Regions from separate parts of the Homo sapiens genome. Here region 2 is linked to region 1. A link means that fine-mapping ties the variant in region 1 to the expression of a gene that starts in the linked region. Tissue or cell type: lymphoblastoid cells. Region 1 holds a variant in brackets; the other region holds the start of a gene. All regions are shown on one strand. Distances are between the middles of the regions.

Region 1 (2,759 bases):
TGGTTGTGGACAGCAAAGCTCTCTTTAACAATACCCTGGACAGAATTTTAAGGCAAGGCATTGTGTTTGCGAATCAGTAAGTATTCCCTGAGTGTTTGTGTGTCTTGCCATTTGTTGTATAAGTTAAGCTTGTGTGTTTCCTAATGGGAAGGATATGCTTGTTACAAATATAAATTTGGTAAACCATTTTTAAAGTGAGAATTTTAATAAGCCTTTACTAGTGATCTATTTTGGTGAATTTGTTTTCAGGATTATTGTGCAACAAAGTGGTCCATTTTGCGGGAACGCTTTGACCGAGGACTGTACGCCTCTCATGCTGACCTCCACAGGCTTAAGTAAGTACTAGAAGGTCAAGCCCAGGGCACTCTTAAGAACCATAATGCAGTGTTGGCCCCACTGGCTTGCCACACCCTGGCCTCAGTCCAGCTTCTTCTCACTCACTGTTCTTCCCATCTACCCTGGGCCCCTTTCAAACGGGACAAATACTTGTGCCCAGACATATTCCGTATCTTTTTTGTTTTGGTCACTTTTACTGTCTCTTACCCCTGAAATTCCCCTGTTCATACCTTTGCTTGTTCAAGTCCTGCCCAGACATCAGAGTCCAGCCAGAGGCTGTCCCTTTCCAGTCTTCCTCTGTCCCCTCAATCAGACTTCATCCCTTTCTCTGAGTCTCAAGAATTCATCCTACCTCGCCAATGCATTTATCATGTTCTGCTTTTTCTGTTGCTTTTTAAAAATCCCCTTTCATTGTAAGTCACTTAAGTGCAGACACTGTATCTTACTAATTATTGTATCTTATTACTTGCTTAGCACAGTGCTTGGCAAAAAATAAACCTCTAATAAATATTTAGAGTCATAGAATATCAGAGCTGAAGAGAACCTTCCTACCATCTCATTTTATAATAAACTGAGGTACAAAGAGGTTGGAACCTGTTCAGTATTCATTCAAGGAGTACATGGTGAAATGCCAGCTGGAAAAGAAACCTATCTCAGGGATATATGACATTATGCCGAGACCGGGTTCATGCACTGATTGATTTGACAGGTGAACTGCTCCATGTTGTGGGACCAGGGATGTGAAGCAAGTACATCAACCTTGAAACGCGCGCAGTTGGTTTGGGAGAGCCGGCCTGAGGAAGCCCCTGCCCCAAGGCTGCCCACAGAGGGAAGGATTGTGTGTGTGTGTGTGTGTGTGCCATCTTGACAGAGTGAGTCAGTCTGACTTGCCTTTGTGCTTGCCGTTTGTAGGTATCAGTGCTTCAAATCGGCCTGGATGTTTGAGGTGTTTCATAGGGGCTTTTCGTTTCCTGTCAACTATAAAAGCTTAAAGACTGCCTTGCAAGTTTACGACAAGGAGGTTCAGTGGACCCTTGGAGCCATCCTCTACAGGACCCGCTTTCTACCATTAAGGTAGGGCTGTGAATTTGGGAACGAGAATCAAAAAGATGCTTTTCTGCAGTTACAGCACCTCATGGCAGCTGTGGTCTGTGGCTGTTTGGGGCATTGCTGTTAGAGCCGGCCACGGCAGAATTGTAGGGACAGTGACGTTTGCTTTTGGTCTTGCCCCCTCCCCACAAGTGCTTCCTCCCTTCTCACCCTACCATCCCGTAATACACAGCACTCCTGTCCTACTGCCCTGTGTTTGGTTATTCTCAACTGT[CTGTT/T]CCCCAGCCCCGGCAAAAGGGTCAGTTCCGGGGTTCTTAACCTTTATGACTCAGGCCTCTTCTCCAAATACTGTTTAAATGCATGTATAAATACATAGGATTACAGAAGAAACCATCATATTGAAATAATACCAAAATATTACAGAAAACAAGTTTGTGATACTGTAATATGTGTTCTTCTCTATTAACACATTAAATAACAGGATCTGGCAGCAGAATTAGCACTTTCTGTAATTTCAGTGTAGTCAATGAGCGTCAATGATATTTTGAGGCATTGATGATACCATAATGGGACATGAAAGATCTGTGATTTTCGTTAGTAACAAAGTTGCAGGTGCTGCCAACGCTAATGATAGTTTGTTGTCTGCATTCATGGTCAAAGAAATGCTACATCTCAGTCAGCGCTTGGGTAGAACAAAGATGTGCGTTTTTCCCCATTCACGTTTGCAGATCTGCTGTCAGTTGACCTGTGCTAAGAACCTGAGTTACCTGATAGATGAGACATTTGCTCTTCCCCCCACCCCCTCCATTTAATTGAGCATTTCTCAGCAACCCTTTTAACTGGGTTAACTGTAAAAATGGTGAGTCATGGGTGTTACTGATCACAAGCATGCAGTTTGTTTACATGTTGACTTCTTTGTATCAGCGAAACCTTCACGGCTCTTCTAAATTCCTCTGATTTTGGTTGCCCAAATTATAATGACCGACTTCAGAGTATACTTTCACATGTTATCTCACTGATACTTAGAAGCCCCCTGCATTGGGCTGTTCCGTTCTCCATTTCAGAGGTAGGGTTGCAGTTCCTAAAGTGCAGCTCTGGGGCCTGGGTCCCGCCGTCCCCCTGTGCACCCTTTCCACCCCTTTCCTTGCTTACTGTCCTGTTTGTTGTTTGGTGTTCACATGGGCAGAGACATCCAGCAGGAGGCCTTCCGAGCCAGTCACACCCACTGGCGGGGCGTTTCCTTTGTCTACAACCACTACCTGTTCTCTGGCTGCTTCCTGGTGGTGCTGCTGGCCATCCTGCTGTACCTGCTGCGGCTGCGGCGCATCCACAGGCGCACTCCCCGGAGCAGCTCGGCCGCCGCCCTCTGGATG
Region 2 (2,759 bases), 30 kb after region 1:
CGGGGTTTCACCATGTTAGCCAGGATGGTCTCGATCTCCTGACCTTGTGATCCGCCTGCCTCGGCCTCCCAAAGTGCTGGGATTACAGGCATGAGCCACCGCACCCAGCCAGGATTCAGATTACATTTTGAGGACCTTGGAGCCACGGAGGATTTTTTTAAATTTTTAATTGAAATTTTATTGGGTGTATTACGTTCTATACAATTTTATCACCTGTGTGGTTTTCTGTATCTCAAGACACTGAATAGTTCCACCACCACAAAGATCCCTCCTCCTGCCTTTGATAACTACACCCCCTTCCTCTGACCCTTGCCCTCTACTGCCCACCAGAGTCAGGGACTGATCAGTGGGGAGGGTAAGGAGGAGGCAACGGAGAAGACCCCATATCTGCCTGGGAGAGCTCACAGGAGTCAAGGTGGACCGTGAGTTGCAGTGCCAAGTTTGGGGCTTGCCAGGTTAGCTACGGCCATGGGAATGTCCAGGTGAAAGTCTTTCGGGGCCAATGGATTTAAATATCCATGGCTTAGGAGAGAAGCCTGGGCTGGAGGTGAGATTTGGGAGGGGTTTGTCTCCTCAGGGAGTGGAGTAAGAGAGGACTGAGGAAGGAGCCGCCTTTCAGGTGACAGTCTACTTCTGCACAGGGGTCCCTTGTTTTGCAGCTCGCTGCCTCCTTGGGACTGGCAAAGCCCTGCTCTTGCTTAAGGAGCCCTCTCTGTGCAGAGGGCTCTCCCAGCATGCCCATCCCCCACCCGGAGCCTCAGAGCCAGGCACAGGAGGTCCTTCTGCACAATGGCCACGCATTAGCTGTGTCCTGTTCAGTCCCCAAGCACAGGGCTTGTTAATCCCAGCCCTACCATTCCAGGAAGGACCCCAGAGGTCACGGAATCCAAAGCGTTGAATTTACAAAGAAGAAAACTAGTCCTCGGAGAAGAGGCTTGGCCAAGGCCATAGACGTGATCTGCTGGCCGAAAGGGGGCTGTTTATTTACTGGTTCAGGATCGGTTTTCCCCCTACAGGAAAAGGGAGGTGAAACCCAGGCGAGATGGGTGCAAGTTTCTGAACACTTTCATTCGGCAGCTTTAATTGAGCGTGTATTATGTGCCAAGGAGGGCCAGGGTTTTCGGGATAGGAGGTGGACAAGGCACGGGCCCTAAGGCTGGTGGATAAGGACATCGAAGGGTTAAATTCTGGGACGGCTGCAGGGAGGAAAGGGTAGAGGAATCTCCCGAGGAAAGGCCCCCTTCCCGGCATCTCAGGCTCCGGAAACCCGGGCGCGAGGAGCCTGGGAAGGGCTGCCCCGCAGGCCTTGGCCTCCCCCGCGGAGCTCCCTCTGGCCCTGGGAGTGGCCGCTCTCGAATTACAACAAAAGAGGCCGGAGGCCGGGCCTGCTGCGGCGGCCGCCTTCGGGGAAGGGGGTGGGTCCGGGGAGGGGTTTGCCATCCTCCTCTAGTTAAAAGTAAGGGGGAAAAGAGTAAACGCGCGACTCCAGCGCGCGGCTACCTACGCTTGGTGCTTGCTTTCTCCAGCCATCGGAGACCAGAGCCGCCCCCTCTGCTCGAGAAAGGGGCTCAGCGGCGGCGGAAGCGGAGGGGGACCACCGTGGAGAGCGCGGTCCCAGCCCGGCCACTGCGGATCCCTGAAACCAAGTAAGAGCGCTTCCCGCGCCACCCCCTCCCCGAAGCGGTTCGCGAGAAAGCGGGAGCGTCCCTATGGGGTCTCCAGGCTTCGTCCTGCGCGGGGCTGCCTCTCGACAGTGCCTGGGGGTTCCCAAAGACTTCTTGCGGGGAGCGATGCGAGGACGTGCAGGCTAACGGGTCCTCCTGCCGCCCCGGGCGGCCCCGCCCAACCCCACCTCGTACGGGCCGGGCGCGGCGCGGCTGCTGGCGCGCCCGGGGAGCGAGGCGCTGGGTCCCTGGATCGTCCCGAGCGCCCGTAATCAGGCGGGACAGAGCCCGTCAAGTCTCGGTGTGTGCTGGGCGTCTTGGAGAGTGCAGCGTGGCTCCAGGGACAGCGTCTCCGGAATTCTGGCTTTGAGGAGTGGGGCACGCGGGGGACGGGTCGGGAGACAGTGACTGCCCTCGGGGCTGTGGTTTTGGGGATGTAGAGCGTGCTGGGCTGGGACGGAGTGGGGGCGGGGACCCCGGGGGCTGCGCCCGGGAGCTGTAGCGTCCACTGCTTGAACCCGGTTCAACCCCCAGCCTGCTCGAAAGGCTGTTGGGAGCGCGGGAGCGCCGTGAGTCCTGCGGGAGCAGAGGCGCTCTCGGCACGCCAGGTATGCACTCCCAAGTCGCCCTGCCTCTCCGGGGACCAGGGACCCTCTCCCGCCTTCATCACCTAGAAGCCCTGGAGTTGGAAAGAACGGGCACGAGCGAACCCACGGCTACAGCTGATCCCAATCTTGAGCCGTTGGTCCGGTGGTCTGAAGTGCCTACAACTTTTACGCAGGCGCTTTGCCCACCGCGCCCCTTCTCACCAGCCCAAATTTGGAAGCCCTCTGGGTGTGGCTGCCTGCTCGAGGTGTCCCAGGAATCAGCGCTGGAATAGAGATGATTGGGAGAACAAGCGAGGTTCCCTCCTCTCCGTGCCCGAGCTAAGACCATCAAAAAACAGCCGGAGTGCGGGGCGGAGCGGGGCGAGGGTGTGAGGAAGAGAACACCGCAGAACACGGCGAGGGAGGGGGCTGAACTACTCAATATGGTTAGGAAACCCCAAGTCCTGATGAGGGGAGAGATGTGCATGACAGAAACATGCTCCAAATT

Which allele goes with the higher level. Alleles are on the strand shown, and positions count from the first base shown. SD is a standard deviation of normalised expression in the study named.
In carriers of allele T in region 1, the expression in lymphoblastoid cells of the gene that starts at base 1,480 in region 2 tends to be higher than with CTGTT alone (moderate effect, 0.60 SD a copy in GTEx).

Evidence for each region. PIP is the estimated chance that this variant, and not a neighbour inherited with it, causes the effect.
Region 2: LOXL2 starts here. The variant in region 1 is fine-mapped to the expression of LOXL2 in lymphoblastoid cells (GTEx, PIP 0.95).

Annotation. Positions count from the first base shown.
Region 1 is chr8:23,432,968-23,435,726 of GRCh38, reverse strand. ENTPD4 (ectonucleoside triphosphate diphosphohydrolase 4) reads left to right here. Exons shown (of 13, transcript NM_004901.5): 11 at 250-335; 12 at 1,249-1,410; 13 at 2,573-2,759. Among named protein-coding and RNA genes, the nearest start is that of ENTPD4, 23 kb to the left of the region's middle. The variant CTGTT/T (reference allele first, on the strand shown) is at 1,661.
Region 2 is chr8:23,402,841-23,405,599 of GRCh38, reverse strand. It overlaps LOXL2 (lysyl oxidase like 2), which reads left to right and starts at 1,480. Exons shown (of 14, transcript NM_002318.3): 1 at 1,480-1,646.